2 separate regions of the Homo sapiens genome follow, and region 1 is linked to region 2. The links come from fine-mapping of genetic effects on gene expression. A gene starts in region 2. The other region holds a variant in brackets. All regions are shown on one strand. Distances are between the middles of the regions.

Region 1 (15,768 bases), 50 kb after region 2:
TGGATTAGAGGTAGAATCCTGGCTTAAGGTTTCCACTCCTGGGTCCAGCACCACCCTGCTCTGGGTCTCAGTTTCCTTATGTATGAAATAAAGCTTTGGATAATGTAATTTGCTAAGCCTCTTTCATATTTTAGGGCACAAAGAACCTTTACTTTCACACTTAATTTCACATTCATGAGGGAAAATTAGCTTCCTTAATGTTTCCCCTTCTTTTATTTTTTAGATCCTACTGCAAGGCTGTAGCTTCAAATCTAGGAGCAAAATATGTTGAAAGCTTTAGAGTTTCAAAATCATTTATTTACCAGAGAAGACCTTTGCCATTGGATTTCAAACAATGGTAGGAGTGGTTTTAAGAAACACAGTCTACACTACAATTTTTTTCCCAAGGGCTTTGAAAGAAAGGCCTCTCCTTCTAAAACTTACATTTTTGAGAAAGGTGGAGCTGAACCCTCATCTGTAGAAAACATCAGTCAGAATCTATGATTCACTGCCAGAAGCCTTATTTTGGAATCTTTTCTTAATAACAGCCCTGTATAACAAAAAGATGCTTTGTATTTCAGCAATGCCTTTATTTAGACCACCTTTCCAATGTATTTATAAACATGTCTAAGAAACACAGGCTATGTCTAGACTATCGAAGCAAAAAGGCACCAAAATCAAACAGAAACAAAAGTAGAGCATTGGTGAACTGGTATGTTCAGTAGTCTGAACATCCATATTAGTTTATTCCACTGTTAACTCTAATAAAGATTGTAGAGAAAAGTATAACTTTTATGGCAGCAGATTTTTATTTAAGTCATTCCCTATCAGTTTGGACATTTTCAAAACATATTTATTAACTGTGATTGGTGCTGATAGCTTAAAGAAATGTAGGTTATTCAGGGCTTACCCACATGAAAAGCTAAAAATCAAAATAAGAGTGTCTGTTCAAATCTTTTGCCCATTTTTAAATTATGTTGTTTATTTTCTTATTATTGAGTTAGAAGAATTCTTTATATATTCTAAACACAAGTTATTTCTCAGATACATGTCCTGCAAATATTTTTTTCTCAGGTTTTTGCTTGCCTTTTTGTTTTTATAACAGTGCCTTTTGAAAACCTAACAATTTTAATTTTGATAATGTCAAATGTACTGAGTCTGTTCTTGCTTTTTGTGTTATAGTTTAAAAAATATTTGCCAAGCTCAAGGTCACTAAGATTTTCTTTTTGTCTTCCAAAACTTTTATAGTTTTAGGTTTTTGATCCATTTTGAGTTATTTTTACGTATGACATAAAATAAGGCTTCTTTTTTTGCCTATGGCTATAAAATTTTTCCAGTAGCGTATGTTGAAATGCTTATCCTTCCCAGTTGAAATTCTTGGGGACCTTTGGCAAAAATTGATTGACCATAAATGCATGAATTTATATTTAATGTCTATAATCAATTGATCTGTTTTCCTATGATTACAGCAATACTCACTTTCTTGATTACTAAACTTGTATAATAAGTCTTCAAATCAGATAGTGAAAAGTCCTTCAAAATTATTTTTCTTTTTCAATGATGTTTTCATTATTCTAAGTTCTTTGTATTTCCATATAAATTTTAAAACAAACAATTTCTACAGCAAAGTCTACTGAGATTTTGACTGGGCTCGCATTGAATGAATTTGCAGGGAATTGATGTTTTAACAATACTGAGTCATCACACTCTGAATGCACCATATTTCTCCACATATTCAATCTTTAATTTATGCTAGGTATCTTTTGTAGTTTCCAGTGTCTAGAACTTATACCTCTTTGTCAAATTTATCCATAAGTAGTTTATATTTTTATACCATTATAAATAATATCATTTTATAAGTTCATTTTTCTAATTGCTCATGGCTAGTATAATAGAAATATAATTAATTTTGTAAATTGATCTTGTATCCTGAAACCTTGCTAAACTCATTTACTAATTCTGATAGTTTCTTTGTAGATTTTTTAGAATTTTTTACATAAGTGATTGCCTTTTATTTCTTTTTCAACCTGATTACACAGGCTGGAATCTCCAGTAAAATGTTGAATAGAAATAATAAAGAGTGTACCACTTTGACCACTTTGCTTTGTTCCTGAATTTACAGGTATAGTATTCCGTCTTCACCATTAAGTACGATTTGAGTTGTTAGTTTTTCATAGATTCCATTTAGGGATATTTAAGGAGTCATCAGACTCTATGGAACACACACATGTAAGATTATTATTAAAAGGCAACGGATTAGATACAGAAAGAGAAAGAGAATTGAGGCAAGCATCAGATACCAAAGAGACATTCCACAAGAAGTTTCCCCGGGACCACTATTCATATTCATGTCCCACATATGTAACAATCTGTATCTCCAGCCATGCTGGACAAAATGGTTAGGCCAGTTGCAAATATCAGTAAAGAAACTGATTTTGAAGGCCATTAGGAGAGTTTTGGACCTTAAACAGCATAACATAAATGCCATTACTCTTATCCTGACCAAGAGTCACAAATGAGGCATCCTCAGAGATTAAAAAAAAAAAAACAAACAACAAAAACAAAACAAAACAAAACAAAACACAACTTTTTCAGTCTAGTTGTAAAACAACTCAATCTCCTCACCTTCTCAGTTTGAGGAAGTTCACTTCTATTCTTGGTTTCTTCAGAGCTTTTATTAGAAACGGATGGTGTGTTTTATCAAATAACTTTTCTCCAGCTATACAGATTACCTTTTTCAGCTGTTATTAAAAAGAATCACATTGGTTGAATTGAAAATCTTAAACCAGGCAGGCATTCCTAGAATAAAGCCCCATTTTGTCATGAGATTATATATGAGACATGACATATATATGACATATTATATATGTCATGAGATGCGTGTGTGTGTGTGACATAAACATTTGGTAAAACCTTGGTAGAAATTTTTGCGTCGATGTTCATGATGGATTTTCATCTCCAGTTTTCTCTTATTTGGCTTTGGTATCAGGATCATAATGGCCTTATAGGATTGAAAAACATTCTGTCCTCTTCAATTTTCTAAGAGTTTGTGCAGAATTATTATTCTTTCCTTGACACTTTGGTGGAATTTCCCCATGAAGCTATCTGATCCACAATTTTTCCTCATGGAAAAGTTTAACTATAAGCTCAATTTATTTAAAAGAGTTACGGCTTTTTGAGTTATATTTATTTTTTAGTGAGCTTTGTTGGTTTGTGTCTTTCAAGGAATTTTTTCATTGAAATTGAAATTGTTAAATTTGTCATAAAATGTATTATATCTGCTTATTATCCTTCTAATGTGTGCAAAATTACCAGTGATGTCACCTCTCTCATTACTAGTTCGGTAATTTGTGCCTTCATTTTTATTTTTTTAAATCAATCTAGCTAGAAATGTATTTGTCTTCTCAAAGAAGCAGCTTTCACTTTTATTGATTTTTCTCTGTTTTCTCTTTTTACCTTTACATTTAGTATTTCATTTCTTCTGCTCTATTTGGGATTGATATTTTTCAAATTGTGTTAGTTTCTTAACATGAAAGTTTAAATCACTGATTTGATACCTTTTCTCTTTTTTAAACATAGGTATTTAGTGTTATAAATTTGTCTTTAAGTACAGTTTTAGTTACAAGCTAAACTTTTGGTATGTTTTCGTTTTTATTCAGTTCAAAAAACTTTCTAATTTTTTTTTATGTCTTCTTTGATCCATAGTTTACTTAGAAGTTTATCTTGTAGTTTCTGGATGTTTGAAGATTTTTCTAATATATTAGTTATTGGTTGTTAATTTAATTTTATGTTGGTCAGATAACATGCTCTGTATAATTTGAGACCTTCCTAGAAATATAGAGAACTTTTTTATGGCCCAGAATATAACATTTTATGGTAAACGTTCTGTGTGCACTTAAAATGAATATGTACTTTGTTGTTGTTGAATAGATTGTTTATAAATATAAATGAAGTCTAGTTGGTTGACTTCTTTAAAGAAGAATGCAATCTTATCCTACATGTGTGAATTTCTCTGTTTTTCTTGCAGTACCATCATTGCTTTCTTTCTGTATTTTGAAGCTGTGTTACTTGGCATACACATATTTTGAACTGTTATTTTCTATCAGTTGACCTCCTATATCATTATGCAGTGGTCTTCGTTAGCTCTTTTAATACATTTTCTAAAAGTTAAAAAGAAGATTCTTACTATGAATCAGTGCTTCTATTACCCTTCTGAGGAAAGTTATAATGTGATATAAAGGCTACATTGAAAGTTCTTCTTTAAATTAACTATACTTTATTCCTAAAATTACAAAGAATCAAGGTATTTAACAAGTCAAGTGCAATAAATTAAAATGTTCTTTTAGCATAAAGCAACACTAGAAAAAATAAACATTATAGATGGAAGTTAAATAGTTTTCAGTGGCTCCTTTGAATATTTTTTATCTCTGAAACCCACTCTGTCTAAAATTACTGTAGTCATTTTAGCATTTTTTCATTAATATTAGTATATATTTTCCCATTCAGTTATTTCTACCCCATTGCTATCTATATACTCAAATTAGGTTTTTTAAGGCAGTGATAAGCAATTCTTGCTACTTTATCTAGCAATATCTGCCTTTTGAGTATTTAGACTATTTATATGTAATGTGGTTATTGATATTATTAATTAATACTGTCTCCTTACCCATTGTTTTCTATTTGTCCCATTTTTTTTTCTTCTTCCTCTTTCCTTTCTTTTTTTTTTTCTTTAGGGCTAATTTAGTATTTTTATGATTTCATTTTGTTTATTTTTATTAGCTGTAATCCAGCAATTTATGGCAAATCAGCATATGAAAAGATGTGCAACATCATGAGTAAGTAAATTCAAATTAACACTACAGTGAGATATTACTACTCACTAGAATCAGTAAATTTCATTTGGATAATAACAATAATTCAGATAATAGTTAAATTAGATAACAAGTATTGGTAAGAGAGTTAAACAACTGAAATTCTCATACACTACTGGTAGAAATGTAAAAATTGTACAGGCAATTGAAAAAACTGTTCAGAAATTTCTTAGAAAGTTTAACATATAATTACCTTATAATCCTGCCGTTTAACATCTAGGCATTTATTCATGAGAAATAAAAACAGATGTTCAGATAAAGATTGTACACCAATGTTTACAGCACCTTTATTTATAACAGTAGTTTGAAAACTGTCTGGGTGCCTTGGCTCATGCCTGTAATCCCAGCAGTTTGGTAGGCTGAGGCAGGTGAATCACCTGAGGTCAGGGGCTCGAGATCAGCCTGGCCAACATGGCGAAACTCCGTCTCTACTAAAAATTCAAAAATTAGCTAGGCATGGTGGCAGGTGCCTGTAATTTCCACTACTTGGGAGGCCAAGGCAGGAGAATCGCTTGAACCTAGGAGACAGAGGTTTCAGTGAGCTGAGATCGTGCCATTGCACTTTAGCCTGGGCCACAAGAGTGAAACTCCATCTCAAAAAAAAAAAAAAAAAAAAAAAAGAAAAGAAAACAACTTAAGTCTTGTAGACTTGAAATCATGAGATCCATATATTTGGAGAGGAGAGCTTTGTTTCTTATAAAGGGTTTCCGCCTGCAGGCTGGCCACCCTGCAGACTGGGAAGCATAGCCTCCAGCAGAAATCAAAAGCAGGTACTTCAATGGAAGAAGGATGAGACAGGAATTTATACTGGACAGGATGGCTAAGTATACATATCAACAAGTTATAAAAAGAGTTATGAATATTCACAAGGGACACACATATGCTAGTAAGCAAACATACATATTACATATGTCACATGTTCACTTTAGGATGGAGAATTAACATTTAAATGTATTAAAATTAGGCTGTATACATTAAAAGATGACAGACATCTTGTGGGCAGCCTCTGTATCTGGCCAGAACCAGTCCATGGCTGGTAGTAAAAAATCAGAAAGGAATGTGCTATGAAACTGGTGAGCTGCTGTGTAGAAACTACAAGAAGGGAGAGGATTCCAGCTGCAGTGTCCAGCAGTTGGCTGAAATCAGCAAAGGAGTGAGTTTTCATTTCTTTATTTTTCCAGGGCCAGTTTCTGTTTAACCCTTAGAAAATAATCTAGTAAAGATTGGCAAGGAATGAGGTACACCAAGAGGTACTCAACCTCCCACCTTGTCATGACCAGGAAACTCAATTTTTCAAAGTTTTTCTGGAGTCTTCTTGGGCAACAGGTGTCTGCTCAGTCAGTTGCAGGGCTTAGGATTTTATTTTTATTTCACAATCTTTACAAAAATGTAAATTGATAAATAAGATAGAATATCTATGTAACGAAATTATACTCTGCAACACGGAAACATATGAAAATAATTATGCTGAATATAAGACGTCAGATGAAAAAGAGTTCATAGTGAATGATTCCATTGTATATAAAATTTCAGAAAATATAAATGAATCTATAGTGACTGAAAGCAGATTAGTGGTTTATTGGGTTTGGGGGATGCTGGGGAGTGTTGAGAGGGAAGAATTACAAAGCCTGATGAGAAAATATTTGGGAATCATGTCTGAGCTCATTATCTTGAGTGTAATGATAAATTCTCATCAGATGATTGATAGATGACAGATACATAGATAGATAACTAAATATGTTATGTCAACTATAGCTCGTTAAAATTATTTTGAATACAACAAGATAGTTTGAACAGAATTCTAAGTACAAGGTAGAAAAGAAATTTATGTTATTGGAGGACAAAGGAATTGGTGATCACTGAGAACTGGAGCAGGTACCGGAGATATTTTAGAAAGTATGAGACTTAGGCTGTATGTTGAAGGCAATGGGTGTGTTCATGAAGATAATTTATGATTCAAAAAATGGGCCCTGTTTTTGGATGATGTCAAACACCACCAGTTTCCTATCACTGTACATAGAAAGAATACGCCTCTATATGGTGCAAGCAAAAAACAATTGTATTCAATTTCCCTTTTGCCCATTCAAAACTTTCTCACGAGGCTAGTTATTTTCTGTTCCTGGGTGACATCTACAGCAGTCCGCATGTTGTAGCCTAGTCGTAGTTCAGGAATTAAAATGTCCAGATAATTTAATTGTCTAAACTCCCAATTTTATTTCTGGTCAGTGATCTTTCTTCATCCCTCCTTGTTGTACCTTTTCAGGTA[C/T]GGAGCCTGCAATGAAAAAGGGAATGTGTCTCCATCATTTCTATTTTGTAACTATTGCTTCTTTTTGTCCCCAGGTTTCTATCCTCTATAGCATAAGAAGAATTAGAAAAAAGAGCAGTGAGCGAAGAAACATTATGACTTGTCTGTTACTGTTGTGATCCTGCTTTAGGAAACGTTTACATCTGACTCTTTCACGAAGTCCTACTGCACTTCCCCTGACTTGGATAATAAATTGTATTATTTTTCCCTTCCCACTCAGTCTTAGATTTCTGAAGATATATCCCTTTGGTTGAGATCATATCAAACCTGCAGATGGTCCTCTTCATCACAGTTGAAATCAATCTCTGACCCGTTATTTCTCACTTGGCACAATCCCTGTATCACAAAAAACACATTGCAGGGAAGTCTGTGATGGCTGCTTTGCCGCTCTCTTTTCCTGTTTCTCTCAGAGATTGCTCAGGAACCTGTATGTTCTGTTTTTTGACTTCAGGAGCTGTATATATATATATATATATATATATATCTCCAGGAGACATATGTATTGTATATATATGTATATACATGTACATGAATGTATATATAGATACATTTATATCTTATATATACATTCATATACAGATACAGATATACAGATACATATATCTATACATTCATATCCACATACAGATATACAGATACATATACATATGTATATATCTCAAGCTCTCTAGGTGATTAGATTAAAGATCCCATAGCTGACTTCAGTTAAGGCTAGGGCACCCTCCATTCTTTTTTGCCTCTTTGAATAGAGACAAAAAAAAAATCCATAGCAGTTCAGCAACTGTATAAAAAAAAATCCTCTTAGCTCTTTAACCTGAAAAATGTTGTGCTATAAAGGATATGTAGCTAGAGTTCAAGAAACTGTTTGCATTTTTGTTTCTGCACTGTTTCCTTTGCTAGTCATATATAGGCAGTAGTATATCACCTCAGTGTGGAATGTGGAAGCACTTGCCTGCTATTGTTTTCGTCTTGGAATTTGAAGTCTCCACCAAAACTAAAAAGAAAGGTTTCCATTTGAACATCCTGTTACAAGAATGTATACTGCCAAGGATGTGATGTAATTGAATTTGACTATCAAATCTGTAGTTCTCAGAACATAGAATTGCAAGAGGCATCACTTATGAGCAACTTGCAAGAACGTGTGATTAGTTTGGGTATTTAATTTTTTGTTTATTTGCATTTATTTCAGACTCTGTGCCAATATGCTGTTAAGATTTATATTGAATAACAAAACAAGATTATGAATAATTCTATAAATGTCAAAATACTAGCAAGCAATCTTATTAGTATTTTTCCGTGAAAGCTATCAAAATAACGATGTTTTGAAAAATAATTCCTTCCTATAATATCACAGATTTATCTAAATTGACATTCAAATCAAAGCTTGTTTCTTGCAACTAATAACGCATGATTGGTTATTTGGGGCATGGGATAATATGACTAAATGCCAAAATGTCTTATTATGTCTTGAAATTATTAGTGAGAGTTTAATGTAGAAAAGTTCATTACAATTCACAACACATTAAAATAACAAAGCCTTTAAAACTTTTTCTTAAAGCTAAGGAGAATATGTATAAGTTTGTTAGAAGGGGGTGTCAAAGACAAAAATTCAAACAAGTAAACTGATTTTATTCAGTCTATTACAATAGGGAGAACACTCCAGATCTGAATATCAGAGTTTCTCAGCAGGGTGATTTTACTTTGGCATTTATAAATAGGAATAAACAAGTTACAGGTGGACAATCATCCAGTTGGGCTTATTTCTATAATCAGGGAGTGTCTCAATCAGCTGAATAAGAAATGTTTATTTCTGTGTCTAGTTAATATCACGGGACAAACATTTCACCTAATCATTGGTGAGCCAAAGAATGGGAATTTAGAGCTTTTGTATCTGGCCTTGTCATAGGTAAACAAGGAGCTCATCTGTCAGTCTTAGGAGAGTCACAATAAATAGTGGACATCAAATCTTATCTGAGTCATATGGGGAAAGGTGGTTCTTTGCAGTAAACAATTTCCTGGAACATAAAATGGTGGGGGTTCTGAAAAACACAAGAGTGGGGAATGATCCTTAACCACAACTGTGTTCTGGAGCAAAGCGCCCAGGTTCAACATTGTAAATCTTACCTCTGGACAGGTATTAGGAAATTGATTTAGCAAACCTTCCTTTATGTGTTAAAGAAAAAACTAATGAAATTGTTGTGATTTTAATTTTTATCATTGGTACTTTGCAAATAAAAAAAAATTTTGACTTTCAGTCCAACATGTAAAGACTTTAAACTCATCAATCCCATCCTCATAACCAAAGAAAGCTGAACAAATTGAAAGTTAACAATGCTACTGAATTCCATCAGAGAATTAAAGTCCTGAAGAAAACGAGGAATACAGAGAGTCACAATTTGGCAGGAACAGAAGCAGTCAGAAGACATGATCTGGTAGGAACACTTACAGGGAATTGACAAACTGTTGAAGACTGACATGGACTGGCTCAAGGGGTAAAACCTCCTGGGGCCAGCCTTGAAGAAGCTGTCATATGTTCTGGAGGTTCTGGAGTGTTTACCTCCAGGGGCCCACCAGGTTCTCAGCGTGAAGATCACAGGAAATACTATCAAGATTCTGGCAGAGGAAAAGGAAAAGCAACCATTTTTAAACATCCCCATAGTCTTCTGTTCTTCCTAACAAAGTCCTGCTCTATTTTATCAGAACTTAAACAATTTGGGTTTTTCCAGAGACTGAAGGACCTTGGGGAAGGGAAATACCCAGTTCCAGCCTTCTCTAGCCTTCCTGTCTCACCTAAAGAGGAAAACAAGGCTGACAAGCACCTTTGAAGGTCAGGGACCAAGGGCAGAAGCCCACTAAAATATTAATCACAGGAGTGTAGAACACTTCCCCTCCTCCCACACATTTCCAATTAGACTACTGAATAGTAATAAGGGATTACAGCTGAAATAAGTGCAAAGCTCAGACTCTACTTAAGAAAGAGTCTAAAAGGAAATCCAAAGACAAAAGGAGGTGCAATAACAAAGATACTAGAAGAAAATTTTAGCCTCTGACACCTGTAGATACAGCCTAACCCCAGCCAGATAATACAAAACTTCATACTAATGGCCTATTTATTTCAACACCTTGTACCTGATATGTCACTTCTGGCTTTGAACAGCAACAGCAAAATCACAAGGCATGCTAAAAGGTAAAAAATAATAATCTAAACATACAAATTCAGCATCACAATTAGATTTAGAGGTGGCAGAAATTGGAATTTTCAGTCTGAAAATAGAAAATAACTATTAAATATCCTAAGTGCTCTCTTGAAAAAGTAGACCCCATATAAGAAAAGATGGATGCCATAAACAGAGAAGACACAGAAATTCTAAGAAATAATACAAAGTATATGCTAAAAATAAAAAATTATATATTGCAAGAAAAAGAAAAAAAAAATTCTTTCAGTGGCCTGATAGGCAGACTGGAGGCTGAGGAAAGAATCAGAGACCTGGAGACATATCAATAGAAACTTCCCAAACTGAAAAGCAAGGAGAAAAAAATGAAAAAATAAACAAAATATCTAAGACTGTTGGACAGTTACAAAATGTGTAACAAACATGTAACTGGAATACTGCAAGAAGAGAGAAAGGAATAGAAAAAAACATTTGAAGTACTTAATGGCTAAGAATTTTCCAAAATTAATGACAGACGCCAAAACACAACACTAGGAATCTCAGAGAACACCAAATAAGATAAACACAAAAAATACATACCTAGGTATATAATAGCCACACTGCAGAAAATCAGAGATAAAGGGAATATCTTGATAGAAGCCAAGGATGGGGAAACCCAAAACATCTTAACTATAGATGAACAAGGATAGGAATTATATCAGATTTTTCTATAGAAATCATGCCAGTTAAAAGAAAGTGGAGTAAAATATTTCGTATTGAAAGAAGAAAAGCACCAACCAAGAATTCTATAAAGAATAAAATTATCATTAAAAAGTGAAAGAAAAATAAAGACTTTCTCAGACAAAAATTGAAGGAATTTGTTGCCGGTAGACCTGCCTTGCAAGAAATATTAAATTATTTAGGTCAGAAACTCTAACTATACAAATGAAGGAATCGCATCAGAAAAGGAATTAAACAAAGGTAAAATAAAATTATTTATTTTTACCATTCTTAATTGATAAATGGATTTGTTTAAAATTCTAATAGCAGCAATATATTTGGTGATTATAGCTTATGAGTAAGTGAAATCAGTAACAGAAATATTACAAGGCATGGGAGGGAGTAATTGAGAATGCTTTGTAATAAGGTACCTGTACTACACATGAAGCAGCACAGTGTTACTTGAAAATGAACTTAGATTACTTGTAAATGTATATTGCAAACTCTAGGGCAAACACTAATTTTTTTCTGGGCCACGTAATGCACTGTAAAATAGAAGGAATAACAATCACACAAAATAAGCTCTCAGTTCACAATAAAATTAAACTAAAACAACAGAATGATAGTTGGAAATTCCCCAAATATTTGGAGATTATAAAACAGAGTATTAAATAACAGACCAGTCAAATAAGAAGTATCAGGAGAAATTAGATATATTTGAACTAAATTAAAATGGAGAAAAAAATCAAAATTTGTAGGATACAGTGAAAGCAGCATTTCAAAGGAAACTTATAGTATTGAATGTGTATATTAGAAAAAAAAAACCTGAACTCAAAAAATCTAAGCTTCCACATTAGGAAACTAGAAAAAGAAGAGCAAATTAAATCCAAAGTAAGAAGAAGATACAAAATTACAAAAACTAGAGCAGAAATCAGTGATCTTGAAAACACGAGATCAATACATAAAATCAATGAATCCAAGAGCTGTTTTTTTTTAAAGATAAGTAAAATTTATAGACTTCTACCCAGGTTAATACCCCTGCCCCCAAAAGAAAAGAGAGAAGACACAAATGACTAATATCAGGAATGAAAGAGGGGTCATCACTACTGATCCTTTGGATATTAAAAGGATAATAAATAAATATTATACATAACTCTTTGCCCACAAATAAACCAGATAAAATGAATCAATTTCTTGAAAGATACTGCTCTTCTGGGGACACAATTTGAGAAACCTTGCTTTAAATGAACTCAGATTGCCATGATGTTTAAATTTTTCTGTCAGTTTTTTTTAACAATCTTCATCCTTAATATTGAAATTCCATTTGTCATTTCTCCTTTATCTTAAAGGAATAACAAAAGCAGACACCTACAACTGTATATCCATTTATTCATCCTTTAAACTTGTCTATCTGTGTCTCACTGAACACTGTGTAAGATGCAGAGGATTGTGTTGGCTAGGGATCATTTGGTAGCAGTGAGAAAAAAGTTTTAGTCAGCTGAAGTGGAAGAAGGAGTTTACTGGTGGGAATCAATCCATCTCACAGAATTTACAAGTAGCGAGTACTGCTGGGTCTAAGGAGGTGCTAAAACCAGGAGCTAAAAAGTTATTATGAATCTAGGTGTATTTGTGCTTATTGCTGTCCCTCTCCCTTTCTCTCTCTCTCTCTCTGGCACCACAGGTCCATATTACATCTCCTTCCTATTCAAGTCCCCAGTTGAGCTGACTGGAGTTATTTTCTACCAATTACAAGTGTCAGGGAGAGATAGTAAAATGCTCAATTTTGTCATCTGCGACCCAAACATCTGTGTTTTAGTCAGCCTCCAGGTAATTCAGATACATGCTAGAGTGTGAGAAACCTTGGGCCAGAGCAATTATCCAGGAAGGAGGCTTCTGAGAGTTGTTGGCAGCCAACATTGACTGCTACAGCTCGGAGATGAGTGCACCATGGGTGCAGTCAATGGAAGACATCAATGGCTTCCACTACAGGTGCTAAGTGCCAGCTCCTCTCTTTTTATATTCACTTAGAAAATTTTACTCTAGGACACAAAAAATTCTAAGAGCAGAGGAGACAAGTGTCCTCTAATGTGTCCTAAAATTGATAATAACCGTAAAAAGTTATAGGTCAAATAGGAAAAGGAGCACTGTAGAAGCAGAGCATCTTACAGTATCTTAAGCATATTACAATTTACAATGGAAAACTGCAGAGTACATTGGTCTTTGAACAGAGCAGTCAGAGAAATTCTACCACTGAATAGCATGGCCTCATGGGCTGAGTGCTTGTTAGATATGTGACCCCGTTGAAGCACTTCTATTGAATGTGTTTGCAGAACAAGATAGATGGACACTGTCAAGACCCACATGCCCTCTCAAGGGGAACTTCAGAGTTCTGGGATAGGAAGCTCTTCATTCATGGATGAGGAAATCCATTTACACACAAAACCTCAGCACAAGGTTCATCAACAATTCTCTGACACAAGAGAGATAACATTTCTTGGAAGATTTGGAAAAACAAATATCCTAAAATAATTTATTAAAGAAAATAGAAGATTTTTTGAGAAAATTTACTTAGTGTTCTATCTTACAAAAGATAGAGGAAAATATTGCCTTAATTCTTTCTAAAAAACTGACTCGAATATGTCACATGATATGAATTATAAATGAAGACTCAAACTATGTTTTATTGGACTCTCCTATGTAAACAATAGGATGAAATGTAATTCACTGGAGACCTATCAGTAATCTTCATGGGGGCAAGTATGGTGGAAGGAATGGGCACATCATTGAACCTACTTTGATGTGCAGAATCATTCTATCCTTTTATAGTGTGATCTAGCTCATGGGCCAAAGGAAACAATTTGCTTTTCTCTGTTATTATTCACAAGTCCTACAGCAGGGTTTGCTACCAGATTCTGAAGTCTAATAAAATATTATCATGACTGGTTAAAAATAAATGACTGATGTCTACTGTAAAAAATTAGCTCATATAGTACCATTCTAGGAGGTACTATTAACAAAGTATAATTTAGTAAGTCCTATATATTATGATATAATTTACAAATTTGTACTCTAGTCACCACTAAATAAGCCTAATAACCAAACTTTCATAAAAGTAATGTATAATTTTCTCTGATTAAATACATTATTACAGAAGGCAAAAGCAGATTTTGCCAAAGTATATTCCTTTGACACTCTGAGTTGCATATGATTTTCATAAATACTTTTATGCATTATATTGAGTTCAAAATCCATGGCATATGTTTAACATTACATGTTGAAGAAATTCCAAGTTTACATTCAATAGTTAAAGTAAACAAATGCTTAGAAACACATAAAATTTTTATAAACTGTCACTACCTAACTGTCACCTGTCAGTGTAAACATTTTAAAATTAACAGACATGTAATCACTGGCTGGAGTGATCACATGAAAACCATGGCCAGATAAACTTTGGGAAAATGAACATAAATGTTTCATGCAGATAAAAGAAGACAAAAAAGAAGATGGTCCATTACAATTTGGAGAGATCACAGCTGACCCCCTTCCTGCTTTGTGTGCTGCCTGGGCAGAAAAAAACAGAGCCTTTCTGGAATCTGAAGAGGGAGAGGGGGTAGAATGGGTGTTCTGCCTGCGGTGGTCATCCTATGGTAATCTAAGAAGGTCTATGTGTCTGAATTGGCCAATATGTGTGACATACTCCACGCGTACATTATGCTGGCATGCCCAGAGTTGTCATGACCTAAGAGCCATCAATGTGTCTTGACTCTTGAGTATCATATCAGTCATCCCAGACTGCTAGTTCATCCAGAAGGAAAAAGATGGTCAAATAGGTGTTTGATAAGTGTATCAGTAATGCCTTTTTTCCAGCATCCTTTCGTACCTTGGAGTGGTTCTGCCCTTGCAGCCAGAATGTTGCCAAAAGCAGATGGCTGCTAGGTGAGATGTTTTAGTAGCTCATCTTAGAATTCAAACTCCTGTTAATCAAGCAATATCCTTCTGTCTGGGTACATTTGAACTGTCTGCCGTTCTCTTCTCCAGGCTAGTAGGCAGGGAATGGATATATGGAATGTAGTGTAAGCCCTAAGTAATCTGGATAATAGGAATCTCTTTATCCTCAAACTGTCTTTCCCAAATTATCTATCTTAAAATTAGGGGCATGTGGATATTCTGTCCCCAGTAGTTACTCTTTGTCTCCTCTAGAATCTGAGTAAATCCAAGTCATGGTTTTACCAGTTGTTGGTTGAACAACTCTTTTAACCCCTCTATGCCTTAAATAAATCATGTAAAGCAAGGACAGCAATAGGGATTTAACAGCAAAAAAATTTACAAGCCCAGCTTCACTATTTTCTAGCTGAGTGACCATGGGGAAGTTATTTAACTCCTCTGTGGCTCAATTTCTTTCTGTGTAAAGCATGGATCATAATAGTTTCTATTTCATAGATTTGATATGAAAATTAAATGAATTAACGCATGTATGTTACATAGAACAGACCTTGGCACACTGTAGACACTATATAAGTGCTTGCTGTCCTTACCGATACTATCATTATCATCATCATCATCATCATTATCATTGCATTTTCCATACCCAACTGAAGAATTTTTCGTGTCATCAGTAGATATCTCTGCCCTTATTTGTCAATATGATCATGTAAAAATTATACCTAGGTTAAACTTTTTTTCTTATGGAATCTCACTATGTCACCCAGGCTGGAGTGCAACGGTGCAGTATCAGCTCACT
Region 2 (15,768 bases):
TTGTAAGGACATAAGAATTGTCATCAAGGTACACAAACATTTTAGAATTATTAAACATTTAAATAAATGGAAATTTTAAAAATAAAATAACAATATTATCATACAAGTTAATGATCCAGTTTATTAATTTCTAATTCTATTGATAAAACAAGGGATTATTTTTGAAAGGGTTTTTCTATCTTTCATACAAACCCTTTCCAAAAATGTATAGATACAGTACGGATTCTACCTGATCATTCTTGTGCATATGGTGATGTAAGAAACCAAAAAAATGTAAATTATTTTCATAACACTGTGAAAACCAATATTTAAAAATACAGTGCACAATTAGTAGTGAGTAACATATATAAATTTAGAAATATTATATTTCTGTACACAAAGTAACATTATAAATGAAAGCTTCAGGAATAATGAGCTACTTATTATTCCGGAAATTATATATCAAAAATTTCAAATATAGAGGAAAATTAAAAACCCACTCATGACCCATGAAAATTAATAACCCATTCGATCATACACTTACCATGTAACTTTCTGTTAATTTGGTAATAAATAATGTCAAGAGATTTTAAATGAAAATACTTATTCTGAAACATAAAAACAACATCTGAGATGAGCACAAATGGATCAATAGATACATTATTGATTATTTTGTATCATAAAATACTATCTAGTACAACATTCTTTAAAAAATTCAATATTTTTATAATGTAAGTAAAACGGGAAGAACTGTTAGAGAAATGGGCATCAGATTTAGATTAATTCTGCCTCTAACGCAAATTGTAGGCTGAGCCCTATATGTTCTTGACCATTCTAAGTTTTACTACATTAAAACACATAAAATATTCTGCGAGGTTTTCTCCAATGGGATTTTGAATCTCACTGATGACTGTGATTTAGGAGTAATGTAGAGAGTTTTGCAACTAACTTTACTTTACACCGTTACTCCTTTTCTACTTGGGGGTTCAGTTCAACACGCTAGTAAAAGAAATAGTCATGAGAGCATCCTAAGGAAAGTAGGCAAAATGTTAGTGCCTCATTATATTTACAATCTTTACAAAACATGTATGTCAGTAAACCATATTAACATCTAAAGCACATGATATGTAGAAACAAATTGTGACTACAAAATGTGTCTTGTTTCTTAAATATGCTAAATAGGAAATAAATCACATCTACTTCAATTTTTAATCTGTGGACTTTGGCCTTAGTTTGTGTTTTATTTTATTTTTTTGCTTTTGATTTTAACCACTGAAATCATTTACCAATACTATAAGCCAGGAAATACAATGTAACTGGCCAGTTGAGAATTAAGCCTTCTCTTTTTATTATTACAATCAAGGGGGGAAATGCTTATATATCTTCCTGCACAAAATGTTTCATTTATCAAAAAAAAAAGTGAGAAAAATAAAGAAAATTTGGGTGAGATAAATAATCCACAACTATTAATTCAACAGATATTATTTAAGAAATTCCTACCTGTAATTTATTTTCTAATATTTCTGCATCCTTAGTATTTATCGCTCAAAGATATTTGCAGCCCTCATAGCAGTGCTTGGAAAAGAGATTTGCTCTGAAAATTTAGAAATAAATTCCTGAGGTGAATACAGTTCAAAACTAAAATATATTGCTGTATTATATTGGTTTTTCTCATTTGAAATTAAAATCTAAAAAACCTTCATATTAGGTTGTGTGTGTCAAGCTGCCATTATAAAAACACTAAATGAATAAAATTTCGCAAGCAAGGCAGCATTATCAGGCTAAGTACATGTAGTGGGCTTATATATGGTGATGTTTTACATAATTCAGCTATTAATTCATCTATAGATTTACATTTCTTAAGTGCAAAAAAAAATGTAATTATTTCATTACATATGGAATTCACCTCCCAAATTTCTCAGAATCTAAGAGAAAGGATTGACATTTTCTGATATTTCATTTTTGCTTAAAATTAAGTTCTTAGGATGTTTAGATTTTATTATAAATATTACAACTTAAATTCCAGAGTTATAATGAACGGTCTATGTTTTGAAACACAGAGGGAGAATGGGGTAATGACTGAAGTACTGTTTTTTCAGTTTATTAGTAAAGATCAGCTTATAAGATGTCATTGTAAAGGTTTCTATTGATAATTACCATAAACAAAGATTAAAACTTTAAATACTAAGTTCTGGATTTCTAAGCCCGGTGAAAGTTTGTGCAATACCATGCCTTGCATTTATGATTTTTCTTTTAAAATGAACTATAAATGAAGAAATTTACACAGAATTGGAAACTATTCCTACTTTTATTTGCATTCTTCCTTCCATTCATTGCTAATGTTCAACAATAAAGCATTTTAATTCTAAAGGAATTGTTGCTTTTAACTTGAGTGTGATTATTTTAGATCACATTTTAGAGCCCTCATGTAGGTCAATGATACTTAGAATTTTTTATGTCAGATTACCATTTTTAAATGTTCACACCTAAAATTAGTCTACCAGTCCAAGATAAAGAATGGAAGTTTTTTTTTGTACTCCATTTGATTTGTTCAATACTTCACTTTAATCTTCAAGATCCAGTATATTATTTTTTAAATTCTAAAGCAAATGCTGAAAAGCCACAATCCAGTAACACAGAAATGAATAATAACACTAATTTATTCCTTTCAGAAAACACAATGATTGAAATATCTTGGAAATATTACAATATCATACTGAATGAGGTTGATAAGGTATTACTCTGAGTTTAAGTTCCAACTTATTAAATGTAATATTTGCTAGTCATTCTGCATAGTCAAGCATATAGACAGACATAATTTGACAGCAAAGGTTTTATGACATAGTAGCTATAAATAAAATATTTGTAATTTTACAAGAATCTAATATGATTCAAAACCTAGTAAAGTCTACCTCCCCAAATCGCTCTTTTCTTTTTTGATGTAATTTCTATTTTTTATAAAATATGTATCATAAATTTGAATAGAAAATATCTAGATATGTACACTGTATAACCATGCACAAAAGCTAAAGTTCGATCAATGAATTAATTTTAGTTATTTTAACTAAAACTGGGCAGTTTATTCCTACTACTAGATTGCTCAAAGAGCAACCAAATGTAATTGAAGCCAAGCAATTCACACTATTTATAGACATTTTTCAGAATCACCTGCTTTGTAGTGATTTTTTTCAGCAGTTGTAAAGTTTTGATTTTTAAGAGTCCCTTTGAAGACGTGGCAGATGTTGGCTTTGCTAATAATGCTGGAAAGCGTAGCAGGTTCAAAGTTACAAAAATGTTTAACACATATAAAATATAATGGTGTGTTTTTCTATTAAATTTGGTTATTTTCAATTGTCAATAAACTTACATAAAGGAAGCCTAAAGTCCATAAATATTTGCTTCCAAAACATGAAGCTGCTAGAGTTTGCATATGTGTGTGTCCATGTGCATTTGTGGAGGGAAAGTGCATAAAATATATGCTAGAGAAGCTTACGTATTATAGTTTTAAATCGTTACTATGAATAAAATTGTAAGGTTTATAAATATTTAAGCTGTTTTTCAATACTTTCTGGTGCTTAAAATTCTATTAGAATTTAACACGGTAATTAGAATTAGCACATACACATACAGTCTAAGTATTAGATGCAGGGATACAGAATTTTGGTCCTGACTTTACCCTGGATTTATGTACTGAATTTTCTCTCAACCATAAATGCAAAGTAATTATAAACTACCTAACAAAATACAAATGATCTCACTATATAGGATGACATTTTTATCTAATACAATTTTAAATTTCAGGAGTTCCGAAATCACTTCAATTTTATATTTTAGAAATATTGAAATACTAAAATGTGCTATAAGCAATGAGAGATATACGTATTAATAGCATACCAGGATCATAATCATTTTCAATATTGTTTTAGTTTGTGCTAGATCAAGATGTCTATGAAATAAAATATCTTTGAAGATAATTTATGGAACACCTAATGCAATTGTTACACGAGAAAGATATCTTTAATTTAAATCTATCTCAATATCTGACAAATATACCTTCAGCTGAAATTGGCAAATAAAATTTTATTTTCAATAAGTGTACATAGATTTAAACAGAAACTATTGTGATTTTCCTTTTAGTCAATATTTCTTCAACATATCAAAGGAAAGAAAAGCTCATTCTAAATCCCCAGTATTTTTATCCTTGGTGATGACTAATTGTACTTTCCACTGAAGTTTTAATCTGTTAATAATTTATGTAGCTGACACAAACACTTATATTTGCTTGTTTTTCCAGTACCCTCATTATCAGCTTCAAAATGTAGAAATGAATTTAATTTTGTTAAATGGTTATTTCCCACTAAGTTGGGGGGGAGAGATAAATTAGTTTTGTTAAATTATTCCATTTTTTAAAAAAATTATTAAAATAAATTAAGGGAATCAGTTATTGAATTCCGTTTTCTCAGTTTTCCCCAAACAAAATAACATGTGCTTGTATGAAAATTGTTTGCCCTGAGAAACTTAAGGGCAATGGCTCAGTTCAGGAAGCATGAAGAACAATCTATCATGTAGGTTTCTCATTGCAAGAAATAAAATGAACCGTAAGAGCTTATGGGAATTGCAAGAGTACGCTCATCAACCCGAACTGGGATCTGCTTCCAAAGTTACACTGATATCAAATGTTCAGTTTATGAAATTGTCACTGCATTCTAAAATCGACTGTTTTTCTAATAAAAATTGAAACCTTTTTGCTATGATTAACCTTTCAACTCACTATCTAAAGAGAGTTTCACTTATAGTTAGGAAAATACATTAAATATCAGTGACACTACTGGTAATTTTCTTATAAAAACTAATTTGTGATGGAACATTAAAAGTTCACCCCCTGACCTTGGAAAATAAAAGTTAGCTTTTGAGACCGTGAGAGAAGAATCCATCCTATAGTAACGCTGAAGAACAATTGATATTGCTGTGAATGGTGAAGGAATATTAAATATGCGGCCAATCATTTTCATTTATGTGGCATCTTACCTAAAGCTTTACACACGATCAACATTTTTCCAATCCTTCAAACCAACATATGGGATTACCTTCTAGGACTATTATTAACCCAATTCCACAGAGGAAGAAAAATATGCAAATATTATATTAAACAAATGACACCTTCCAAAAGTATTTAATCCAGGTTGCACTATACCCACGAAAGAAAACTCACAAGTCTCTTAATTTTAAAGTATCTTTTAACAATTTTATAAAAATACAGGTAGGTAAGAGCTTTGAAAACTTGTCTGGAAACTTTGAGTTTCTCTGGATTGCTACAATTTATTCGGCACGTTGTGCCTTCAAGCACCAGAGGTCAGGAAGGTTCCCCTTTTGCATGGCTGCTCAAATTATCCCCACTGAAATCAGCGCCTCCTGCGCGCACCCTTGCATACCCCTTTAGACACGTATCTAACTAACAGTACCCGAGTTGCTGTTGCTTCGCAGTATTTGTCTCTACTAATACCCACTTGGTAGAGGGATTTATTTTCCACTTTTGAAACTTAGGTTCTGTAATTAGCTTACACCACATGGACATGTACTATTAAGGTTCGTCTTTCTTCCAGTGTGAGCATCTATTTATTTACAATTCTCTGACACATTCCTTAAAATCTGAATTCCTAGATAATGTCTTCTTCCCCAATAAAGGGAAAATTTTACCATTTGAAATAGGGTGCTATTTAAAGAACGCTGAAATAAGAATGTTAAAAAAAAAAAACTGAAACTTTTTTTTCTCATGCGCTCTGCCAAGTTCCATTGCAAGTTCCAAACATTGTGCAATAATTTGGAAATCCAGTTAACGATGGGAAAAATCGAGCCACTCAGAGTCGGCAACTTGCAAGAGAAAAGTCAAGAAGCGGCACCCGCACGCACGCCTGCCCAACGGACGCTGCATCCCTGGGCGCACGCCCCTCCCTCCCCAGCGCTGGGATGGAAGGTCACGCTTCACAATCGATTTCACAGCCACTTGTCCTTTTTTATCAACCTTCTGGTAAACTAGTTTAGGACTTTGGAGGGCTTAGAGCTGCTGGCTGTATACGCATTGCTCTCGAATAAACACGTGTCCCCAAATATCAGGACCAAAGCTTCACCGCCGAATTTGGCCGCAGGAAGCCACAGAGGGCAACACATTCCCATCTTCCCTGCTGCCACCCTCCAGTGCGAGAATCTCCCCTAGTATCTCTCCGCCCCTTTTCCAGCCCGGCGCGCACTCTCGAGGGTGCCTGGCGCGCCCTTACCTGAGCTGTCGCTTTTCCTCTTGCCGCCGCTTCGCTTCTCCGCCTCCGCAGGTGACAGTGCCTGGCGGCCGTAGTCCCCCGGCGCGCACGCGGCCCCAGTCGGGGTGCTGGAGCCCAAGCTGGAAGAGTTGGAGCACAGGACGGGCGGGCTGCTCCCCAACTCTGGGGGCCCTCCAGAGTCGGGCTGGAGGCAGAGGCTGTGCCGAGCCGCACTCGGTGGGGAAGACATCTGCGGGAGGTGCCAGTTGGTTTGCAGAGCCTGGTGCTGCTGCTGCTGATGGTGGTGATGGTGGTGGTGGTGGTGGTGGTGGTGGTGCCCCCTGTGATGCTGGCTGGCAAACATGCCCTCTTCGTTGGGGTATCCCGCGATTATGCAAGATGAGGAAGAAGTAGAGAGCTCGGGGTAAGACATATGGTCAGATCTTCCATGGAGGGCGAGAGAGGATTGGGAGAACGGGTGCAAGCCTTGCGCCGTGGCGTGAGGGCTGCGCAGGCAGCCAAAGAGCGGGTGTTCCATAGCATGCAAGTTTCGGGTTCCAGGCAGAAGACTTCACGGCGGTTCCAAAGGCCACCACCCTCTGTCACTTTTTCACTGGAAACCGTGTGATTTTTTTTTTAACCTCCCAAAGCAATAGCGGTGCACTTCTGCAGAGCTCGGATAATCCCGGTCCTGAGCCCCAGCGGCCAGTCTCCTTTACATATGAACAGTCGGACCTGGAAGAGCTTCCCTGAGCTACTCAGATGTCAAGAGTGGGAGAGGTTGAAGCCAAAAGAAGGTGGTCCCAGAGAACTGCTTTCAGGGGGAAATGGCTCTGAGAAGTTATAAATAGAGTGTAACGTGAGCTGGGGGCTGGCTTAGGAGCCCAGAGTTGACCACATGCAAACTCCCTCCAAAACTCCCGCTCAGCCTGCGCCACGCGCTCCCAGTTCCACTTCCTATCTCCTGCTGGACGGACGTAGAGCGTCCACGCCCGCCCAGCACTGCCGGCTGCCAGGACTACAAGCGGCACGCCAACGTCTAAGTCCCGCCCGGGAGGGCAGCAGCTCTGCCCTCCAGACTCTGGAGGCCTGGGCGCGGCGCACACCACCCCCAACCTAGCACCCTGATTCCTACCTACTCACTTTCCTCTCGGGGAAACGTGACTTGTCAGTGTCATTTGGGAACTGTCACCTGCAGAAAAGCTAGGGATACGCCTATCCTTTCAGGAACACGAAAGAAGTAATAGGGTTAAAGGAAAAGACCAGAGCTAGTTTGGCGCACCCTCGAAGTTTTTCAAACTTTGCATCTTCCCGTGCCCCGGGCGCCGCAGCGCGCCTAGGTTTTCGCAGCTGGTTTCTGTCGGTGGGTTGTTAATAGGCTGGGACGCCAGATCTGAGGTTGCGGGGATGAGCACCATGGCCTGGAAAAGGCGGTTCTCAGTGCAGAAAGAAGACGGACCTGGTTGGGTGGGTGGGAGGAAGGCGTGAGTCTGAAAGGGTTGCAGATGCCTGCTCCCTGGCATCCTCACGTGCGATGCCAGGTGGAGGCTCCCTTCCCCCTCTTTCCCGGTCCCGCTCAATTTCCTAGCCACTTGTCCACCAAGAAGAACTTTTCCTGGGTCAAGAATATTTCCAAGCGATTGTGTCCCGGTCATATGAGATGTGTAGATTGCACGCGCATTTCTAGCCTTTCCCCTCAGGAGCTAGCCCAGATCTCCTCGGTTTCCTCCAGAAATCCACTCTCTTCTGCTCAAAAATAAATCCGCTAATGCATTCCTTACCACCAGGGTTCCATTTACTGAGAATTCTTACATTTCGATAGCTCCCAAAATTCACTCACCGTGGGCACTTGGTTACAATTTTGCACCCCTGAAAATAAAATAGAAAACTCGCCTCTAGTAAGCATGCGAGAGCGAGGGCAGGGCTTTGAAGCTGCTACTTGCTTGGCGGGCGACAGGGTCCGCTGGGGGCAGAGTCGTTTACACACAAGTGAGTGGCGCTGTAATGAGCAGGAGGAACAGTCATGTCCCATCTGCGACCTGTCGCATCAGGAGAATATCTGTAGTCACCTATTCTGCCCGGGGCCCCAAATGCGCCACCAGCAGTGTCGCCCCGTTTTTTCATTGTCTCAGGTGTCCAGAGGATGATGACCAGGTCTTTGAAGTTGTTAGTGGGATTAATGGGTACAGCAAACTGGGCTAGACATCTGGTTTGAATTAGGAAAAAGCATTGATTAATCTTTGAGAGGTGTCCCCAAAGCAGAACCTTTCCCCTCCTCTTCCAGTCCCCTTGCTTAAGCCTCACTATCTTCTTTTCTTTTAAGTCACACTGCAGAATAGTGGCTTCGCAATAACATCCGTGTGAAAGATCGAATTGTTTTCTATTGCTCAGAGGTGGGGTGGAGTGGGGGTTGATCAGGAATTCTGAGATTTGTAAGCGCTGCTTTCTTTAACGGAAATTGAGCTCTATTTTGAGGGAAATTAGTTTTGCAGACTTCGTTTAAAAAAAAAAAAAAACTAAATCTTTTGTTCACCAGCTGCTCAGCTTTTCAGTCTGGGTCTGAGCTGAAACCTGCTGCAAGTCTGACGGTAAGACTTTCTTTGCCGATATTTTGGGAATCTAATATTGTTTTAGACTTCGAAAAGGGGTGTTGTTCAGGTTGCACGTTTCTAGGGGCTTTAAGCACTCGCAGGATGGCGTCCAGGACTTAGATCTTGAGAATATCTCTTCCTGCCACTCCCCACGCCCTTGGCTCTTTAAGAATAAAAAGAGGTGGGGGAGTTATAGTCCTCCAATATCGTCGGAATATTTTTTTGTATTTTCATTGTGTTTATGGTTTCAATATGTGCTCTGATATTAAAAGTTAAAGTACAAAGAGCAACACTAAACTTCCCCAACTCATGTAGCTTCTCTATGGATTCTGGGTGAAAGCATTAAAGGCTTTATTTAAAGTGAGATTTAGGCAACCACCTCAATAAACCTAACCAGAAATATTTACATAATATAATGCTGTCAACTAAAAGCATTGTGGAAAATGTCAGACAAGACAGACTAAAATTACTCATGATCTGCAGACATCAGTACAAAACATCCACAACGGTCCTTTTGGTTTGCATTACATTGGTTTAGAGGAAGCTAAGCAATTACTAAATGAATGGATTTGAATTTAACCAGTGTGTTGCAGGTAACCAGCAACAAGCACACACAAACCTTTCATCTCCCGAGGCTGCCACTTCTTCTTAAACCTGCCCAGTGACTGTGCTGGATTTTTTCTCACTCACTGTGTCAGATGTTAACAACCTGTCCAGAAGTTTCTCTACAACCTGCCCCAGTCAGTCAGCCTCTAGAACTGTGGGGCCAGAAACCTGGGAAGAAAAATTTAAGAAAGGTTAGAAAAGGAGGAAGTCATTCCAAAGGCATGCAATGAAAACAAAGCTAGCAAGAAAGGTCTTTTTAATTGAAGACACAGAACATTTAATATCAGCAAAAATTATGATGTCCAGTTTTCTTATAGAAAACAGAATATAAGGAAAATATTTGGAAGGAAAAAATGAAGGACTAAAAAGGACGTCTTGGTGAATTCCAGAATTAAATATAACTTTAATTTTCTCTGGATTTCTAAATATGTATTAATCATTACATAAAGATTTTTAAATTTTATTAGAATATTTGGAATAAGATAGAATATTGAATTTTATGTTCTAGGTTATAGAGAAATTTTTAAAATGTAGTAACAACGGGAAAAAAATCCCTAGCATTTCCTATAATAGCTACTTCAGTGTTCACATCCATAAAATCCAATATTGAAAAGATGCCTTTTTACCTAATGATATCAAGAAGAATGGTAAAAATTATAAAATTTATTATAAAATTTCTATATAACAATCATTTACAACTATGTATGATATAGTATTTATCCTACATTTATAATATACTTGAGTTTTCCTGAAGATAAGTTATATTAATGCCAACATTTCATGTAAGGTTTCAATATCAAGTAACACATTATAAAGAGGTTGATTCTGTGAAAAGGTAAGCTACTTAGCTCTTGCAGGGTCCACAGCTATAATTATTTTAAACGTAGGCTAGGTTCTTTAAACTTGATAAGTGTGTATATCTATTGTTTCCTCGGCTTAAATAAAATGACATTCAAGAGTAAAGGCAGAGATTTCTTTTTATTAGGACTATTTTATTTTAAGGGGACTAGAGCTCATATTAAGCAATACAACAAAATTGTATTTAAATTTTACTTTAAGATTCACAACGATTCTTTTAAAAGTTGCCATTCTTCTGCACACGTGTGACATGAGTTGTCATGGAACTTCAAATATTTAAAATTAAATAGGAAACTCTACTTTGAATTTTACCTAATAGATAAATTTTCCTTGGTAACATATACTCATAATATATGAACTAAAGGGTGGATAATTAAATTAATGTTGTAATTTGTTTCTGAAAACTTTATTGGGTATAGAAATATTATTTCTGCTATATTTTGCCAAAAAGTAGCAGTTATGTCCTTCAGTTGGTTCTTCTGAAATAAAGAATTTTGAAAATGTATCCAAATATGCTAAATACCCAATGGTAATTTATGTGATTTATGATGTACATTATTTTATAAAACTAAGGAACTGATTCTCCCCAGGAACTATGCATTATAAAGTTTATGGAACAATTTTGCTATGGCTAATGCATGTTATTTAGTGATTCTGTATACTTTTACACATTTTTAAAATGTTATTATTTTTATATAACATTAATTGGTACATTCACAGTAAAAATTGTTACATTCATTTTACATGTACCAAAAGAAATGAATACTTAAAACCTTACTTCTAAACTGTAAAACAATCCAACGTACTTTGTTTTTCTAGTTTCTAGGTCTTCCTGCATTTAAATTTATTTCTTTCAGGAATTAGTGTTTTTCTTCCATTCAATTCCGGTATAGTATAATCAATGAAATTGTTCTCAACGCTAAATATAACTCTGCCTAAAGCAATAAGAGAGGAAACAAAATATATCAAAATTAGAACTATTTAACGGATGATCTTTAGAAAGCCAGCATGCAATATAGATTATGACTAATAAAATTAAATCTAAAAGATTGAATTAAAAATTCAAAATATATGCATTCTTTCATAATATGTATTCACACTTAATAAAATTCTAATGATCTCTTGTCTTTCTTTTTCTTTTTTTATTTTGTGAGGCGTCTTATGATTGGGAAGACATAGATTGCCTCTCAAATTTCAAACACTTCCATCTGGACTTCCTTTTGTTCACCTGTTTTAAATCCATAATTATTTGATAGTTAACTCATAATAATGCTAATAGACAATAATTAATTTCTACATTTTCATTTGCATTCACGTTGTATGTTATTTTTATTGATAAATGTAGGCCTTTTCAAAATTTTGTCATTGAAAATTATATCCTTTCCATAACAGGGAGAGGTACAGGCAAACTAATTCAAGAGAATTCTATAATGAAATGCTCTATATTATGTTATATTTTCTATAGCATCCAACTCATAACCATTACATTTCTATCCACAATTTAAGGGAACTACACCGTTTATTTCTCCCATGTCTTAAAAAGCAAGGCTATCCTTTTATATGAATTGAATTTAGAAAAGTTCACAAACCTCAGAGAAGAAAAATTGAATCGAAAATACAGACAGGAATTATAAGTAAAACCTTAGTCTTCTGTTTTAAGTTTTCCAACTTGAAGAGTTCAACATAACCAATGTAACTTTGGCACTATGATAAGTTTTTCTTGTGTGTTTTTATTTTTCATACTTCATCAATTTGTAGCAAGTTTTATTCTTAAAGTGGCTTTTCCATTTTGAGCTCAGGTTTATGATTTGGATTACTAAAAACCTCTGTGTTTTAGCTGTTAGTATAGTTCTCCAAAATATTTAATTGCACACTCATATTTTATATGATTCAGACTCAACAAAGAAATACCAGCTGCCTTTTATGTCAACTTTTTTTTTTAGGAATAAAGGAAAAATGTTGTATATTTGTATACCAAACAAAATGAAAAGTTAAGGCCAAATACAAGATCTCTTATAAAAGCATATTTTTAAGAGTTTAACATTATAATAGTACTTTGATGGAGCACAGGTTTTTTTTTTTTTTGGAAGATTTTGAGAGTGATATGGAGTATTTCATACAAGGCAATGGCTTTATGGAAATGGATCAAAACAAGGATGAAATGATTAAATGACAACTGTCTGCCCATGTCTTAATTAACATAAGAAACAAGAAAGGTAACAGAAGGTCAGAATGGGCCAAAAAAAAAAAAAAAATCAGAAGAGTATTTAGCAGGTGAAAAGACAGAAAGTGAGACAAGCTTAAAGATATTAAAAATAATTTTAAATTTGTTAATACATAAATTGTAAGCCACATATGATCATGGTAAAAAGATTCCAGGTTCATATCTCGGTTTAATTGGAATTTTAAAAATAAGTAATCAGAAAGGTTCATATTTAACTGCACGGCATATATACTGTTGATAGAAGTAATAATGAAATATTACTATTCTGAGAAACAGTTTCAAATAATTAATGTGAAATGTGGATATAGATGTGATCAATGCTTAGACATGTGTAGGCTATTGAATATCTGAAGTTCTGAATAATCACTACCTTTTCGTCTTACAAATTTGTTACCTGAAACTCATTGTAAGCAAAAGGTTTTTCTAAATTTCATCTATTTTTAGAGGATGATTTCTGCTAAGTTGGGGTCATAGTATATGGGAAGGGAATAAGCTGGTTTTCAACAGCTGTTAGTGTCTGAGGAAAAAAAAGAAGTCCTGGGCCAACTGCACTGTAAAGCACTTCAAAGCACAAGTAAGGAAATTCTGTACCAAACACCAACCAGAACCCAGGAGGAATACCAGCTCTGAGCTCTAAGGCCCAAGACAAGGCAATTTCTCATACCACCAGCTAACAGTTGTTTTCATCCACAAAAGGGCCTGTGATCAAAACAAAGCTGTCTCTATATTATATAAGATTGTATAAATACTAGATGCAACCTCTTCAACCCTTAGAGTGACTAGAAAAGATTCTTTTTTCCCCACCGGACACGCATTTTGCATGACCTTTGTCCTATAAGCTCAAAGTTGCGGGACTCTACGTTGGTCCAATTCCACTTCTAACAATTCATTCTTGAGGGTATAAAAAAACTAATGGGTAGAAAAAGAGCACAGTGACTGAAAAGGTCAAAATAATCTTGTAATACTTCATGATAAAATAGAATCAAACTGACAACTGATGTTGAAAATGGACTTTATGAGTAAAAGAAAACTGACAGGTTTTTCCTCTAATTTAGGACATCTGTAGTAATCTGAAGCAGCATTTCTGCAAATAACTTATTAAAGATGATTAAGTGTGCTGGTTAAAGTGATGGTAATGTTTCTCTGAAGATATACTCAAGGTCAAATTAAATAGACTTGACCCATAATCAAATATAATAATACCTCTATTTATTGCAAACAATTTTAAGAACATTCCTTTGCTATAGTAACTATAGAGCAATAAAAATAGCACATTTATGACCTTCCATGTTAATTACTTTATTCATCATAATTATCATCTGTGGGCCAGTAGTACCTGTCAATAGCTTGTGAAATGTTTGAATTTCTACACATTTTGTTCTTGGTTACCTCTGATATCCTACCTCTTACAGTTAATGATGCGATTTGATCAAAGTTGAAAGCTGAGTCATTTTGGGTTTTAAGATCTGATCATACCTTCATCAGATAGACTCCACCAGGCAAAGGTCTCAGGCCCAGGTAGCACCACTTGGAATCCTTCCAGAACCAAAGACAAGCACATAAGTTTTAAAACTGCAAAAATGTTCACTGTTGCACATGTGGTGATAAAGCCTATTTTTAGAGAAGTGTGTATTTTTAGAGAAGAAAGATATAAAGAATCACATAGAAGCTTGTAAATATTATGCACTGTAAATCTAAGGTTATTGAATTAGCTATTTCTCTTTCTGTAGCAGTATTAAAGGCTTGCTAATCTATGTCTAGTTCTGTTATGTGAACAATATTTTTCTTAAGAAGCAATTGTTAGATCACTGTAATCTGGCATTTGTGTCAAATATAGCAATGGCTAGAACCAAAAAAAGTGGGTTATTTTCCTTGTACTGTACTAGCAATTCCAGTGATCAAACATTGCTAAATCTCAATTTTCAGTGAGCAAGTCCCATGTCAGTCTCTCTCTAAACAGCCTTATTGACAAGTCAGTTGCTTAAGTCAGAATTAGGAACCCACAATTGCCAAGCCCCTCCTTCCTTCTCCTTTTCCCCCATGCAATCAATCATCAAGTGAAGTATTCCCAATTATACTTATTTAATGTTCATTAACTCCATAATCCTCTCCACCACCAGTCAGTACCTTATTTGGGGGCCTCACTCATCTTGTTTAAATTATAGAGGGGTCCCATGATCCTGTAGTTCCCTAGAGCATTCCTCCATCTTCAGAGCCAGGGTGGAGAATTGATTTGGATCTTAGCTCTGTCAGTTTCTAATTCTGTGGATATATTCATTTGTTAACTCAAGAGAATATTACAATAAACAATTTCGACAATGCTGTGAACATACTTACCATCATGACTGGCATAAGCTCCACAAATGTTTAACAAATTTAAGTTACATCTAGACCTCACTGTGGAATGCAGATTCGTGTGGTTGTTGAGCACTTGAAATGTGGCTTTTCCAAATTGAGATTCATTTTAAGATTAAAATGTATACCAGATCTCAAAGACTTCTTGTGAAATTAATGAAGGTTTTCATTGACTACATGTTAAAATAACCGTGGTTGTATACATTGGGCTAAATAAAATATACTATTAAAATTAACTTTCTTTCTTTTTTACTTTTTTAATGCAGATGCTAGAAAACTTAAAATGACCTATGTGGTTTACATTGGACAGTGCTAAGCTAGAGGGTGTCATTTAACTTTTTCTTTCTTTTATTCCCTCCCCTTGCAAATAGGTACCAAATTACATATATATCTGTCAAAATGATGTAGGACCTAAAGTCTCTCTGTAAGTTGATCCTTTTGACCCCATGATTAGGAGCTTCACAATGTGGTACCACACCTGGAAACCTCCAGAACAAGATCTCAAGGAAACACAGGAAATTCCTGAAACAGCAAAACCCCCTATGTGAAGACGTCTGTTATTCCTTTGTGTATCAGGAGCATCACTGTTAATTAACTGTTGATACACTTAAAACAGCTTGGTTGGCAATGTCCTTTTTGAATAAAGAAGAGCCAGGTGTGTTTTTCAGGATGAACTAGACAATGCTGTCACAAGTTTACCTCTACATCTTATTGCCTTGGAAAAATTTCCTGCATATCGTGGCACAAGATGGTTGGCTCTCCAGGCAGCAGTTGGCGTTGTGAATCAGTCATCTCAGCATGTGTCTCCAAGATCCCACAGCAGGGGGAAAAAGAGGTGGAGGGTCACATGCCTGGTGTTACATACTTTGAGGCAGAGGTGGTAGGTGCCATTTCTGCTCAC

Direction of the effects. Positions count from the first base shown, and alleles are read on the strand shown. Sizes are in standard deviations (SD) of each study's normalised expression.
With allele T in place of C in region 1, the expression in prefrontal cortex of the gene that starts at base 8,747 in region 2 is lower (small effect, 0.32 SD a copy in CommonMind).

What was found.
Region 1: its variant is fine-mapped to the expression of LINC02587 in prefrontal cortex (CommonMind, PIP 0.95).

What each region holds. Positions count from the first base shown.
Region 1 is chr7:15,729,648-15,745,415 of GRCh38, forward strand. LOC105375167 (a long non-coding RNA gene) reads right to left here. Exons shown (of 3, transcript XR_927058.2): 3 at 5,527-7,122. Among named protein-coding and RNA genes, the nearest start is that of LINC02587, 49 kb to the left of the region's middle. The variant C/T (reference allele first, on the strand shown) is at 7,117.
Region 2 is chr7:15,679,632-15,695,399 of GRCh38, forward strand. It overlaps LINC02587 (long intergenic non-protein coding RNA 2587), which reads left to right and starts at 8,747. Exons shown (of 2, transcript NR_110094.1): 1 at 8,747-8,821; 2 at 15,239-15,768. It overlaps MEOX2 (mesenchyme homeobox 2), which reads right to left and starts at 7,052. Exons shown (of 3, transcript NM_005924.5): 1 at 6,255-7,052. The coding sequence starts at 6,771. LOC105375166 (a long non-coding RNA gene) reads left to right here. Exons shown (of 4, transcript NR_134258.1): 4 at 1-2,349. RefSeq lists an enhancer at 5,416-6,248.